2 separate regions of the Homo sapiens genome follow, and region 2 is linked to region 1. A link means that fine-mapping ties the variant in region 1 to the expression of a gene that starts in the linked region. Tissue or cell type: spleen. Region 1 holds a variant in brackets; the other region holds the start of a gene. All regions are shown on one strand. Distances are between the middles of the regions.

What was found. PIP is the estimated chance that this variant, and not a neighbour inherited with it, causes the effect.
Region 2: GPRC5D-AS1 starts here. The variant in region 1 is fine-mapped to the expression of GPRC5D-AS1 in spleen (GTEx, PIP 0.97).

Annotation. Positions count from the first base shown.
Region 1 is chr12:13,854,983-13,862,982 of GRCh38, reverse strand. All of the region lies in intron 3 of GRIN2B (glutamate ionotropic receptor NMDA type subunit 2B), which reads left to right. Among named protein-coding and RNA genes, the nearest start is that of GRIN2B, 120 kb to the left of the region's middle. The variant G/A (reference allele first, on the strand shown) is at 4,355.
Region 2 is chr12:12,923,298-12,931,443 of GRCh38, reverse strand. GPRC5D-AS1 (GPRC5D and HEBP1 antisense RNA 1) reads right to left here and starts at 3,718. Exons shown (of 3, transcript NR_149067.1): 1 at 3,641-3,718.

The DNA.
Region 1 (8,000 bases):
AGAATAGTTTCTAAAAGGTAAGCAGCAAGAGGGAAAAGAAGAAAGAAAAAGATCCAGTAATGGAGATCCTGGAAAGTTGGAGGCTCAGCCCCAGGCGTTCGATGCTGAATGGGTGGTGGCAGGAGCTACCTGGAGAGAGAGTGCCAGCAGCAAACTTCCCAGCAGCCATGCAGAGGAATGTTTGGGGGCTTAACAGATTTGCATAAAGGCCAATAAAAAGAGTCCCCAAATCTCAGAGAAAAAAGCCTTTGGGACAAATTTCAAAGATAAAACACCTCAAAACTAAGGCCAGGTTTTTTTTTTGTTTTGTTTTGTTTTTTTAATAGAAGTTTATTTTTAAGTACCATGACCATATTTTACAAACATAGAATGGGGACACACAGTTGGACAACTATTAATCAACAACAGGGGAATAGGACAAAAAACATTTGAAAGTGGAACTGATGCAGTAAATCTAAGACATGTAGCTTGGCCACACTGAAGGCTCATAGTAATCGTCTGAAGGATGATCAATAAGCCTTCTATTTTGTTCTCCCCTTCTCGGAGACAGGTAATTGTCAGTCTGTTTTAACTTAAGTTTTTGTTGTTAGTTTATTTCCAATAAAACCCACTTATTAAGTGCTCTTGTGGATGATTGCATTACAGGGATAAAGTTTGTATTCAAGAAGTTTTTGATGCTGGAAGGACAGCATTCTTCTGAAGACTTTTGACAACAGCACAGACACAGTTCAGCAGTTCAGCACCTCGTCAAATAGCATGTGCTCACTTTTTTGCATATGCTAATTAATCAGTAAGAACATTAATTAGCACTCTGCTTTCCCAAAGAGGAAATGAGCTTTATATTATGGTGGAAAGAAGCACGGGGGCTAGCTGAGTAGGGCTATTAAAAAATCAGAATTTAGAGTCCAAGCTGGATTCGGGCATCACTTCCTAAATGTTAGAATCAGGACAAGTCACCAATCCCTGACTCTCAACGTTTGTTTCCTTGCCTGTATAATGGGGATACTAATATGTTGATTACAGGGTTGTCGAGGATTAAATGAGGTGATACATGGCAAGTGCTTCACTGAAGTGTCCAGCCTAACATTCAGCAGGTGAAGCTGAAGGCCATGTGGAGCAGTTTGAAGGGAGTGAGAGTGTATCATGATGCAGGAAAAGAATGAGAATCGAAAAGCAGCATGGACCATTGTAGAAAAAACTCTAAATTGGAGACCACCCAAGAAGGGCATATGGTTGAAAGGTGAAAATCTGGGGGAAGGCTCTGAAGTGTGAGGTGGGAGTCTTGGTCTCACCCCACCAGGGAAGCTGAGGCTCACAAGTAGTATGGAAGCCTGCTGCAGCCACACGGGGTCCCTTAAAGAAAATCTCTAACCTGGAAAGAACTGCTAGGTGCTTGTAACAGAGACTGTTTCGAATAGTAATGGAGAATGTTTAAAAATGTATGAGGTGCTTTTTGGCAGTTCCCCACCTGAGTATAAAGAGCCTATTTTATTTTGCCTTGTTATAATTGCTTTTATTCTCCCTGAGATCCTGGATTTAAGATGCCCATCTGAATCCAAATAATGAACTGAAGCTAGATGTATTTCCATTTATTTCTAGGAGGTTTTTCTACTGATTGTCTGAAATCTTCCCTGGGTTTTCAGATTTTAGCTTAGAAAGGTTAAGTAACTAATCCAGGATATCACAGCCCACTATTAGCAATGGGACTAGAATTCAAATCTCAGGAATACCTGTTTTGAAACCTATGCTTTCTATTATACAATTCTGCATCATAAGACACTGAACTAAGAATTATACATCCCTGAGTTTTAGTCTCCATTCTGATGAGCTTTGAAAATGTGGACAAACACATTAGTTATACTACATGATACTCAGTTTATAGTTTATGAGATATAAATTTTGTGTTCTGCCCTATACACCTTACATTTTGAAGATAAAATGAAATAAAATATATGGAAGATTTTAGGGCAGTACCGTGGCAAACAGACACTTTAGGTGAGGGAAATAAGGAGTAGTGATAGGGAATGACAGAGTCAATGACAACTGTTTTGTCCTTGGCATTAGGACTAATGAAAATGGCTTGAGCAGAAGGTAGGAAGGAAAATAGAAAGGTAGAAGTTACAGTAGGAGCAGGCAAAAGGATTCAAGATCCAACTTTAATGCTCCAAGAATGGGGAAGAAAAGGGTATGCTGAGTAAAGGGTCAGGATCTGGAAATAGACATGTTGATCAGGGTGTAGCATGGTAGCTAAAACGTGCATCACATTCTGGATCTTATTCTTCCTTAGATGACATGCAAAAATATTCTTACTGTGGAGTCTATTGCTATGATTCTTTCCTTTCTAAATTGCTTCTTTGGGGGCCAGGCACGGTGGCTCATGCCTGTAATCCCAGCACTTTGGAGGCGGAGGCAGGCAGATCACCCTAAGTAAGGAGTTCGAGACCATTCTGGCCAACATGGTGAAACCCCGTGTCTATTAAAAATACAAAAATTGGGCGTGGTGACGCACACCTGTAATCACAGCTACTTGGGAGGTTGATGTAGGAGAATTGCTTGAACCTGGGAGATGGAGGTTGCAGTGAGCCGAGATTGCACCACTGCACTCCAGCCTGAGTGACAGAGCGAGACTCTGTCTCAAAAATAAAATAAAATAAATAATAAATTGCTTCTTTGGGAATGGATGCTTTCAATAGCACTTTTCATTTTCTGTACTGAGAGCCACATTTTGGAATCTAATTGGGGATAGGAAGATGGCCCTACTCTTCTTTGGCTTCATCCTCTGGCCCTCTTCCCCTATCCTCTACCCCCACTTGCTTAATGACAGTGGGTTTGGAGAGAGTAGATGGGCTGGCAGTGGTGTGTGACACTGGGAGTAGACTATTGCCTTCCCTTGGCTCATATGGATTTGCATATCCAACATAATCTTGAAACCAAGATGGCTACATGTTACTCATGCCTTACCCTACGCTTCTTCACTAATTTCTGGTGTCTGTTAGATTGTTACCTTGCTTTTAGTTGTCTGTGATATAATATTCCTCGGGACAGAATACTTTGGGAGAAAACTGTAATGTTATGGCATTTCTTGGATGAAGGGTATTAAGACATAGAGGTAGGAAAAGTGAGAGGAAAAAAACTAACATAATATGTCAATTTTGAACCAGGCATGATGTTAATGAGCATTTTAATTCTTATGCAATCCCATGAGGGAAGTAGTAGTATTTCTTCTTTCTTGATGGGGAAACTAAATCAGAGAGCGTTTATGTATGTTGGCCAAAGTCACACATCTACAACAATAGTGGGACTGAAATCTGAATTCAGACATGCTTGACTTTAAGACTTTTTCCCAGTGCATACGATGAGGGAGTAAGAAAAAAAAGCCAGGACAAAATTACCTGGAGTTCAGTTTCTTCTCTCCAATTTTCCCTACTTGAACTATATTTTGGGGAAAGATGGGTAGGCAGTGCTCTCTAAGGCACTGGAAACTTTGTAGTGATGTAGCTCTGTCTGGCTGGCTCTTTCCACCTGCTTCTGTGAAATGTGTTTCTTGTTGGCCAGCACATCCTGTCTTTAAAAATTGGAGCTAGGATTTTCTTTAGGAGCAGTGTTAATGCTTGTAACAATTGAAGCCCAGAAATTGCTTCGACATTCATAGAAATACAGGCACTTGGTGCTGGAAAGTAACACACCAGCCATCACTTGTCATACATTTTCCAGGGACGTGATGGTGTCTAAAAGAAGGTACCAGCACAAGGAGAGAATGCAGACTTTGGAGTCAATGGGCTTGAGCTCTATTCATTCTCAGCCATGTGACCTTAGTTGGACTCTTCAGACTCTCTGAGCCTCAAAATCTCCTTCTGTAAAGTGAAAACAAAAATAACACCCAGCTTATAAAGGGTAGCAAGCCTTATGACGCAATGTACCCAGTGCATGGTAGACAGTTGGTGCTTAGTATATGCCATCTTGCATTCTCAAAAACCAGACTTGTCCTAAATCACTTGAGGAAAATGGATTCTAATTTTTCCTATTAACAGAAATAGAAGATTTGGGGATGTTAACCTGCTTCCATTTAGACATGGTGGATAAACAACAGCTCAGTAGGTTCCACCTCTTTGGTGATGCAATTACTGATATTGACTTGATCAGAACTTATCAGGATTTTCAAAGCAGAGACATAAAGTGATTTCAACAAACTGATACACATAGGATATAAGCATTAAAGACAAGTCAAGATCATTTTCTAAAAACATAACGGAATAAAATAGTGTTTGAATCAGAGTCACTCATAGATTTGGAAGTGTTAATATGTTAAAAAAAAGTGAATTATTACATGAAGAAAATATTCGTGGTACTAGGT[G/A]GGAAGTAGTAAAATGTTACAGATACAAGAAAACATAAATTTACTAAATATTGCCAGCCAATTTTTACATCACATTGATATTGCTGAAAAAAACTCCCTGAATTATGAGTTCTATACAAAGAGTATATTTTTAGTCCCCTTTCTGAGACTTCTGTGATTCTTTTTGTCTTACTGTTAGATCTACATTTTATTCAAAATTGTATTTTGATTCTGTAGTTTAAAGGTCTAGCATGCAGGAGAGTAACATTAAAGGTGGTTATTTTTATTCTACCTTTCTGAGTACAATAAAGGTTTATTGCTATAATTCTATTTTACACGGACAAAGAAGATCTAATTATTGTAAGTTATTTTGAGGTTATGATGAGAAAGACTGACACTGATCATTTATTTTTTGTCAAACTCTGAGTTAGTCACTTTATATGAGCTAGTCATCTTATATATTTTATCTCATTTAATGTTTTCATTGAATTTAGAAGGCACATATTTTATCTTTATTTTAGAGACAAGGAAACTATAGATCAGAGAGGTTAACTATGTTGTCCAATACCTTTAGGTAGTGATTTGCTCACCGTAGCTTAAACAAATGAGTCTGTGGGTGTCTCAGAACAAAGAGTCTAGAGACAGAGGCTGCTGGGGGTGGTTCACTGGCTCAGTGATGTCAGTACTGACATCTGGGGTTCGCCTGGCATTTTGTCATGGTTGGAAGGTGGCTGCTCCAGCGTTAGTCATCCATCATGCTCATACTTAACGAAGGAAGAAGAAGTGGGTTGGTATTGGATTAGAAGAAGTCTTCCCCACATCCTTGATTTCATGAGCCCAAACAATGTCACATGGGCAACTCTGTGGACGTTGCAAGTCTCTCTGGTGGAGGTGACAAGGGGGGAAAGGAGTGGGAATGGCTTTGGGGCTAGTCAACAGACAGTGTAGTCAACAGACAGTGTAGTACACTGTGTCTCAAAGGAAGTGACATCCTGGGAATTCAACCAATGCCTGTAGGAATCAAAGCCCAAACATGGTGCATTTCCCTTGTCTCACGCCAAACCCTCTTTTGTGTCTTTAGTCTAGTCTTCTCCAGAATTAGGATCTTGGTTCATCAGTTATTTTCTTTTTTTCTTAACTTTCAACTTATTCCTCTCTACTGGTATCTTCCCTTTTAGGGATTCTTAGAAGATGTTTGGGAATGTATGAGGGTGATTTTTGGATGCCATAATAACTGGTGTGTGTGAGAGTGTGTGTGTGTGTGTGTGTGTGTGTGTATGCACGCGTGCGCCACAGGCACTGAGAACTTAGAGAACCGGCATGTTAAGTGGCCTGTAATATATGTGTTAGTGTCCCACTGTCAAGAATAGTCTTACCCAAAATATCAACTATCACTGTGGCCCATAAATATGCTCAAATCACTCTCATCTTATTAAACAAACATGAAAGCTTTCCTTGATGCTCATTCTCCCTCCTTGTCTCCTTCTTTTCACAGTTCAGCTCCTTAAAGGGTAGTCTGAAATTGCCTTTTGCACTTCCTCATCTCTCACTTCTCCAAGGTGCCAAATCCAATGGACTTTTCAAGTTGTTCTTGACCTTCTGCAGCACTGAATACTGTTGACCCTTTTAGTGCTAGTCACAAAAATTATGATGACAAGAGTAATTAGATTTGTCACAGATTTGGTGACAGCAGCAATGAGAATGTATAGAATTTAGAACATGGGTGGGTCATATAGGTGGAAATGTCTAGTAAGCACTTGGATTTGGGCCTGGAGGTAGAGTGAATGATTTGGGCTGGACATGTAGCTATAAGCCTTATTTGCGGGGACAGGATAGCTGAAACCATGAGAGTGGATGAGATGGCTCAGAGTGAACAGTGGAAAGGGGAGAGAAGTGGGTCAAGGGCAGAACCCTGGGTGCACCACCATTTGAGGGATGGCCAGGGGAGGTGCAAGGTGCAGATGATAAAGGATCTGAGACAAAATTATCAGAGAGATAAGAAAAGAACAAGAAGAGCAAGGAAGGAGAAGCATTATAGAAACCAAGAGTTCTAAAAAGGGAGTTATTTCTCAGTCTGGAAATCAACTTAGAGCCCTCCCTTCCCCTCCGACAGTAACGGGACCTTGATAGTTCCACCTTCGTAGGTAGCTCCAATTTGTCCCCTCAACTCCATACACGCTGCAGTGACCCAAGGGCTGGCACTCATTCTCTCTTGTCTGTGCTGCCACATGGAAGCTTACCTATGATTCTTTGGAAACTCAGATCTATTATTACTTTTTTGCTTAAAACCGCCCTGGCTTCCTTCAGCTTAGAATGAAGCGTCCTCTTTAATCTGGTCCCAGGCCACCTCTCCAGGATTTCTCTTAACCTCCCTGCCCTTGAGCAGCAATGTCAAGCCACACTAAATTATTTACAGCTCCCCGAATGGTTCTGCCTGTTTTACATCTCTGTGCTTTTGTCTTTGCCACCTCCTCTTCTTAGAATGTCCTCTTCCTTGCCCACCCCTTGTCCACTTTATAGGAGAATTCATGGCGTTTCTTCTGTGCACACTTTCCTGACTCCCACCTTCACAGAATTTGGCATTTCTTTTCTTGTGCGTCACCTGTGCCCTCTTCGTGCTTTTATTGTAACCTGTCTTGTTAACACATCTGTCTCTCTTGCTGTAGAGTAGGCTCATTGTGGGCCAGGGCTATGCTTTAGTAATTTCGTCTTCCTAGCACATAGTGTCAGGTGCATAGTGACAGCTAACTTTGATTAAACAATTAACACTCATTAAACTGTGCACTCTATACACACTGCACTGGGTAGCATGGTGATCCTTCAAAAGATAGGTCCATGTCTTAACCCTTGGAACCATAAATGTGACCTTATTTGGATAAAGGGTCTTTGCAGATGTAATTAACTTAAAGATGTCATGATGAGATCATCTTGAATTATTTGGGTGGGCCCTAAATTCAATGACAAATGTCCTTATAAGACACAGAAGAGGAGAAGACACAGACACAGAGGAGAAGCCCATATAAAGAGAGATAGAGGTGGTAGTTGTTGAGCTACAAGCTAGGAAAGCCGCCAGAAACTGGAAGAGGCAAGGAAGGAATCTCCCCTAGAGCCTTAGAGTGTGAGACTCCCGACACCTTGATTTTAGGTTTCTGGCCTTCAGAACTGTGAGAGAATACATTTCTGTTGTTTTAAGCCCCCGAGTCTTCTGCAGCCTTAGGAAATGAATACACACACCACAGTTAAGTGAGGGAGTTCTGGAATCTCACTGCCTTGCTGTTTCCTGGTTCTATCACCACTTACTGTGTGACCTTTAGAAAACTCCTTCACTTCTCTGAGCCTTAGTTTCCTCATCTATAAAATAGTGATACAAATAGAGCTTTTGCTCTCTCACTCTCTGTCTCTCTTTTCTCTCTTTTGTCTCTTTTCTTTCTTTCAACAGGGTCTCATTCTGTCACCCAGCCTGGAGTGCAGTGGCATGATCTCGGCTCACTGAAGCCTTTGCCTCCCAGGTTCAAGTGATTCTGCTGCCTCAGCCTCCTGAGTAGCTGGGATTACAGGCATGCACCACCACGCCAGGCAATTTTTTTTTTTTTTTTTTTTCAGTAGAGATGGGGTTTCACCATGTTGGCCAGGCAGGTCTCAAACTCTTGACCTCAGGTGGTCCACC
Region 2 (8,146 bases), 930 kb after region 1:
CTAATAAACTGCATTTGGGCCACTATCACTCTGCTGCTTTTTACAGCATAATCTGAGCCACCTCTATAACATAAAACAGACACATACCGCATGAGAATCTTTACTACTGGCAGAGATGTCACTGCATGATATTCAAAAAAGACTGTGCTTTCGGTTTTTAACTGCAGTTGTTACTGCTGTGTCCTGCTGTTGACAACTCATTTTTCTAGACACCAAAACAACTACTAGGGGTGGTTATTTAGAAAATTAGGAAAATCTGTCAACTTTATGGAACGTGCCACTGTGGTAGTCATAACTGTTGTTTTCCAAATATTTCCAAACTCTCTTGTCTTCTGGGTACACTGCCAGTTTGCACTTTTGCACCTTTTGAGGTTGTGGGGGATGATGACACTAATTCTGCCTTACAAGTTGAAAGCAGAAATGATGTCACTTCCAAGTCCCAAGCAATTAATTGTTGATGCAAGACCCTTGTGGGCTTTTTCCTTCCTCCCATGGTGGTAAGCAATATTCCACATAGCAACTGCTGCATTCATCTGGGTTCCATGATGAACATGCAGCGTGTGCAAGAAATAAAGCTTTGTTGCTTTATGCCACTGAGACTTGGGGCTGTTTGTTATGTCAGCTAACCCAGCCCATCCTGACTGACATAGACACTGAACCAGTTGTTTGGTATCCTGAGGTAAAGCAAGGAGTTACTTGTCTGAACATTTTACTTTACCATCTGTTATTCTAGTGTTCTTCAAAGACATTCTTAGATCAAAGAAGAACTGCCCTGCTCTTGACTGATGCATGCCAGACTGCTCTGCCAGCCATGTGGCTCCGTGCTTGTCCACATAATTACAATTCACAGAGATAGCTTGCTTCCATCATAAAAACATGTAGAAGGTCACCCTGTGTGCAGCAGAGGGCTGGTCTAAGGTGGAGCCCTCGAAGTGTGGCCTCCAGACCTGGGCCTGGTCGGCTGATGGTTTGTCACTAGTCTGCCACAAAGTAAGTATAGAACTCAAGAGTAAGCACTTAGAAACTTCTGTCTCCTAGACAAAAAGCAATTCTGTCTAAGAGACTGAGAGCAAAATAGACTTCACAGAGGAGGTCAAAAGCTCAAGCTCTGTCTTACACGAGGTTGATGGGGGGTAGAAATTCCCTGAGCAGATGATGTTGGGAATGGTACTCAGAACAGCCACACACAGGGAGACTGTGTGTGAGTTAGAAACATGTGCCCCCTCTGAGTGGATGAATTTGAAAATGTGCCCCCACCCCAAAGGATGTGACCTCAGGCCAGCATCCAGGGCTTGGCCAGCAGTGAGACTGGATTCCAACCCCACCCCAACCATCTCAGCTGGGTGCCTTTGAGCAGTACAAAAAACCCAAACTAGTCAACTGACAGCATTGGACCAGGTATGCAGGTCAGAAAAGTCTGTCTGAAGGTGAGGCTGCAAGGAAAACCAAGGCTCATTCAGCCAGCTGCAAGCCCTCCTTATGCTGGAGCAGAGATAGACAAAGAGAGAAGCAACGGGAGAGGTTGGCTCTGCCCCCACAGGGCTTCCATCCCGAAAGGAGGAATCTAGACATGGTCTGTGTGTGAAGAGCACTGGAAGGAGAGGCCTGATCATCAGTGAGCACTGCTGTGCTAGGCCCTCTTGGAGCCCGAGACAGAAGGAAACGTGTGTGTCCCTATATGCGCTTATCAAAATATCTTCCCATGCTTTGAACCAAGTGGAAAAACGTCATTTAAAAGTCTCCAATCAAAAAATTAAGCCTCAGCCGGGCACGATGGCTCACGCCTATAATCCCAGCACTTTGGGAGGCGGAGGCAGGTGGATCACTTGAGGTCAGAAGTTTGAGACCAGCTGGGTCAATGTGGTGAAACCCCATCTCTACTAAAAATACAAAAAAATTAGTCAGGTGTGGTGGCATACACCTGTAATCCCAGATACTAGGGAGGCTGAGGCAGGAGAATCGCTTAAACCTGGGAGGCAGAGGTTGCAGTGAGCCAAGATCGCACCATTGCATTCAAGCCTGGGCAACAGAGCAAGACTCCATCTAAAAAAAATAAAAATAAGAAATTATATATATATATATATATATATATATATATAAAGCCTCCTTCCCCCCATCTCCCTTTCTTCTCTCTTTTAAAACAAAAATAAAAAGGCCAGGTACAGTGGTTCACACTTGTAATCCCAACACTTTTGGAGGCCAAGGCAGGATGATTTGAGCCCAGGAGTTCAAGACCAGCCTGGGCAACACAGCAAGACCCCCATCTCTACAAAAAAAAAAAAAAATCTAATAAAAATATCCAAGAGGCTGGGCATGGTGGCTCATGCCTGAAATCCCAGCACTTTAGGACGTTAAGACGGAAGGATTGCTTGAATCCAGGAGTTCGAGATCAGCCTGGGCAACATAGCAAGGCACCGTCTCTACTAAAAATCAAAAAAATTAGCTGGCCGTGGTGGCACGTACCTGTGAACCCAGCTACTCAGGCAGCTGAGGCAGGAGGATTGCTTGAGCCCAGGAGGTTAAGACTGCAGTGAGCTGTGATTGCACCGCTGCACTCCAGCCTGGCAACAAAGCAAGACCCTGTCTCAAATATTTTAATAAATTTTTTAGAAAGTACCCAAGAATGGTGGCACACACCCATAGTTCCAACTACTCGGGAGGCTGAGGTGGGAGAATTGATGGGGCTTGAGAGGTTGAGGCAACAGTGGGCCATGATGGTGCCACTGCACTTTAGCCTGGGCAACAGAGCAAGATGCTGTCTCAAAAAAAATTTTTTAAGCCCTCCCTTTCTTTCATCTTTCTTCCCTCTCAAAATACAAACAAACTATATATATGTGTGTGTGTGTGTGTGTATGTACATATATACATATATACATATATGTGTGTATATACACACATATACATATATGTATATATGTATATATTATATATACACATATATGTGTATATGTGTATATATGTATATATTATATATATACACATATATGTGTATATGTGTATATATGTATATATTATATATATACACATATGTGTATGTGTATATATGTATATATTATATATATACACATATATGTGTATGTGTATATATGTATATATTATATATATACACATATATGTGTATGTGTATATATGTATATATGTATATATATACACATGTATGTGTGTATATATGTATATATGTATATATATACACATGTATGTGTGTATATATGTATATATACACATATATGTGTATATATGTATATACACATATATGTGTATATATATATTGCCCAATTTGTTTGTACCCCATTGTCAACCCTCACAGATCCATGGCAGGGACACAGCAGCCACATAAGCCCAGGATCCAAAGCCTGATTGGAAACGGCTCCTCTCTTGCAGTAACGCAAGGTCGTAAAACAAACCAAACAGCCTGCTTTTATAAAATTTTGATATGTTGTTTATCATGGGCTTTTTGGTATTGATTTTGTTTTAAAAAATATTGTGGTAAGGCAGGAGTGACTGAGGCAAGTATTAGAGCAGGAATGAAAGTTTATTAAAAAGTTTTAGAGCAGGAATGAAAGGAAGTAAAGTACACTTGGAAGAGGCCAAGCGGGCGACTTGAGAGATCACCCACTGGACAGTCTGACCTTTGACTTACGGTTTTATACGCTGGCATGCTTCCGGAGTCTTGTGTTCCTTCTCCCCTGACTCTTCCCTTGGTGTAGGCTGTCCACACTTGCGCAGTGGCCTGCCAGCACCTGGGAGGGGAGCATGCGCAGTGTGTGGCCTGCCAGCACCTGGGAGGGGAGCATGCGCAGTGTGTGGCCTGCCAGCACCTGGGAGGGGAGCATGCGCAGTGTGTGGCCTGCCGGCACCTGGGAGGGGAGCATGCGCAGTGTGTGGCCTGCCAGCGCCTGGGAGGGGAGCATGCGCAGTGTGTTTGTACGCATGCAGGAGTTGTACACATGCTCACGTGAGGCGTTCTTCCCTTATCAGTCGAATGTCCCTAGAAGGTCATATACCAGTTAAACTCTGGCATTCTGCCTGTTAGTGCTCATGCTTGAGTACACTCGCCCAACTGCTAAGATCTTACCGGGAAGCTGCTTATCACCCGTTTCAGGTGTTTTCTATCTACTGGGAGCCTGTCTTTCCCTAGCACCGGCTGCGACCAATTATTATTTTAGAGCGACAGACTAACAGCCGCCTGACCATCACCTGATGGTCACCTGAGGTTCCTGCTATTGGAACAGACCCTCTCCTGCCCTGCTCATACCTGACAGCTACCTACTGTAACACACCTAGGCAGATAAAGATGAGATTGTGGAGTTCCAACAGAAGCAGACATTAGGGAATGAGCTGAAAGGTGGAGGTGGAAGTTGTTCAGGGAGATGAGATTGCGCGGGGTACGTAAGAAGAGAGCCTCAGTAGGCTTCGCGGTGGAGCAGGCTGTCCCATCTCCAGCGAAGCTCCCCCCATGCCTCTGTCTCCATATGGAGTTCCACTGTTAACCCTGGGCATCTCCAGCAAGATCCCTACGGGGAGAGGGAACGCATCTGAGTACTGTTTGCAGAACCACACACGACAGCTCTGAATGAATAAGCCAAGACAACACCCCGAGATTCTTCCTGCGGATTTGGGTTCCCAGGCCGGGAAGGAGCTGTTGGAGCCTGCATGGAAGATTAGTGGATCTGCAAAAAGACAATGTGGATGACTGGCCGACGCCTTGTCCCAACCCTGTCCAAGCAGAAGAATCGCCGGGATACTTGCTCTGGATACAAATTCTTGGACCCTGACTCAGACCAACTAAATCAGAACCTCTAGGAGGCCTCCAGACACTGCATTTTTAACAAATTCCCATGTGATTTTTAACGCAGTATAAGTTTAGGAAGCGCTGCTCTGTTGACAAGGAAAGGCTCTGGTCTGGTTTGTAGCAGACTGTCCAGGCTTTCCCAATTTGGTCCAAAAAGGCAGAAAGTGATTGGCTTGAGAGGGCAGAATCAATGGAAAAAGTTTATGAATTCCTGCCCCTGGGAACATTCGTCTTTCACTTTTCATCTTCTTCCCCACCCCCACCTCTTTGGGGTATAGTCTTCCCCATGCCCCAGTTCCACATCTGCTCTGACCTGGGGTTCCCACCCAGCCTCCATCCAGAACACGCTCACCCTGTTTTTGTAAGAGAAAACATTGTCAAAATCAGCTTATGCCTGAAAATTCAAGAAGATAAATTCCTCCTGAGCCCATTTGCTGGCATTCTCATCTGTTTCCAGTTTGGTGTATATCATCTGAAGGGTCCTTGTTCATCCATTTTGGTTCAAGTCAGTTTAGAAAAGAAATGCACTTTACACTGGGCACAGTGACTCACGCCTGTAATCCCAGCACTTTGGGAGGCTGAGGCGGGTGGATCACTTGAGGTCAGGAGTTTGAGACCAGCCTAGCCAACGTGGTGAAACCCCATCTCTACTAAAAATACAAAATTAGCCAGGCATGGTGGTGGGCACCTGAAGCTACTTGAAAAGCTGAGGCGGGAGAATCACTTGAACCCAGGAGGTGGAGGTTGCAGTCAGCCAAGATCATGCCACTGCACCTCAGCCTGCGTAACAGAGTGAAACTTCATCTCAAAAAAAATTTAAAAAAGAAAGAAAAGAAATGCGTTTGGAACACAATGCAATCGATCTTTGGAGAAAATCCATCTAAAATGCTTCTCTTATTGTTTTTGGGGGTTTTTTTTGTTTTGTTTTGCTTTGGGGTGTGCTTTTCTCTTTTCTCATATTTAAAGTTTGTTCTTGTGTGGTTCTCCTAGGAAACAGCACTTTCCCAAGCTTGACAAAGAAAAGCCTCAGGGAAATAAATTGGGATGTGATGAAATGTATTCAGCCCAAGAAGTAAAAAATTCCTTTCCTTTCTTCCAAGCCTCGGGCTTGTAAGTTGCTTTTATCACACTGGATTTAAGTGTTCTTATATGGAAACACACACAAAAATCTGATGGTTGATCAGCTGAAATTCATCAAAATTATTTGAAGACAAATTGGCATTCAAGACACCAGAATAGACAAGAGAAGAACCTGAGGGCTGTGTTCTCTGAGTGAAAGGACATCATTCTAATTAGCCTGTGACAAAAGAAAAAAAAATACCCTTCTCCCAAAAAGTTTATTCATTTTACCCATGTGTACAGGCACTGTCCTAGGCTCAGGGAATACTGAGAAAAACAGAACAAATTTCTGTCCTTCTAAAGCCTATATAATAGAGAAAAACACACAAACCAACAAATAAATCTAAATTCGAAATTTCAGTACCCTGAAGACTTACCACTATGGGAGCCCAGCATTAAACTGCCTGCTCTAGCCGGGCACGGTGGCTCACGCCTGTAATCCCAGCACTTTGGGAGGCTGAAGTGAGCAGATCAAGAGTTGGAGATCAGCCTGGCCAACATAGTGAAACCCCGTCTCTACTAAAAATACAAAATTAGCCGGGCATGGTGTACAGCCAAGTAGCTGTAATCCCAGCTACTCGGGAGGCTGAGGCAAGAGAATCTCTTGAACCTGGGAGGTGGAGGTTGCAGTGAGCTGAGATCGCGCCACTGCACTCCAGCCTGGGCAATAGAGAGTTCGTTTCAAAAAATAATAATAAAAAAAATTAAAAACTGCCTGCTTATATCTGGGCCAGCTTGTAGTCCCAGCTACTTGGGAGGCCGAGGAGGGATGACTGCTCGATCCCAGGAGTTCAAGATCAGCCTGGGCAACATAGTGAGAACCCATCTCTACAAAAGATAAAAGGTAAATAAAAATGAAAGATCGTGAAAATCAAGGTCACAGGGATGGATCACTCACCGTGAGTTAGGGACAGTTGGTGACATGCACTGCTTTTCAGCCACACAATCGGCAACCCTGTTTTGCTACTGCCTTGAATGGAAATGTGTTTTATTTGGCATGACAGTGTGCACATACACATACGGTGATAGGAGGCAAGGGCACTGGTTTCATCTCACGTGTAGAAATGACTCTCCATACCTTAGGCTTACGGCCAATTGGTGTATACAGGAGTGGACATGGATGTGGGTGGATGTGTGGGTGTGTCTGTACACACAGCCACCAGCCGGTACCCCACACATACCAGGAATTTCTGAGATTCTCACAGACTACTGAAGAAGATGTCTGGGGAGCATGAAAGCTTCTCCACAGCCAGCCATGGTGACTGACACCTGTAATCTCAGCACTTTGGGAGGCCAAGGCAGAAGGACTGCTTGAGCTTGGGAGTTCAAGACCAGCCTGGGCAACATAGAGAGAGCCCCCCCACCCCCGCCATCTCTATAAAAAATCAAAAAAAGCTAGGTGTGATGGTGCACACCTGTAGTCCAAGTTACTCAGAAGCCTAGGGCAGGTAGATTGCCCAGCCTGGGTGACAGGGCAAGACAAGAAAGAAAAGAAAGAAAAAGAAGAAAGAAAGAAAGAAAGAAAGAAAGAAAGAAAGAAAGAAAGAAAGAAAGAAAGAAAGAAAGAAAGAAAGAAAGAAAAAGAAAGAAGGAAGGAAGGAAGGAAGGAAGGAAGGAAGGAAGGAAGGAAGGAAGGAAAGGAAGGAAGGAAGGAAGGAAGGAAGGAGGGAGGGAAGAAAGAAAAGGAAGGAAGGAAGGAAGGAAGGAAGGAAGGAAGGAAGGAAAGAAAAGAAAAGAAAGAAAGAGAAAGAGAGAAAGAGAGAGAAAGAAAGAGAGAAAGAGAGAAAGAAAGAGAGAAAGAGAGAAAGAAAAGGAAAGAGAAGAGAGGCCGGGCACGGTGGCTCATGCCTGTAATCCCAGCACTTTGGGAGGCCGAGGCGGGCGGATCACAAGGTCAGGAGATTGGGACCAAGCTCGCTAATGCGGTGAAACCCCATCTGTACTAAAAGTACCAAAAGTTAGCCGGGCGTGGTGGCAGGCGCCTGTAGTCCCAGCTACTTGGGAGGCTGAGGCGGGAGAATGGTGTGAACCCAGGAGGCGGAGCTTGCAGTGAGCCCAGATCGCGCCACTGCACTCCAGCCTGGGCAACAAAGCGAGACTCCGTCAAGAAAGAAAAGAAAAGAGAAGAAAAGAAGGAGGGAGGGAGGGAGGGAAGGAAGGAAGGAGGGAGGGAGGGAAGGAGGGAAGGAAGGAAGGAAGGAAACCTCTCCATTATGCAGAATATATAAACAGCCA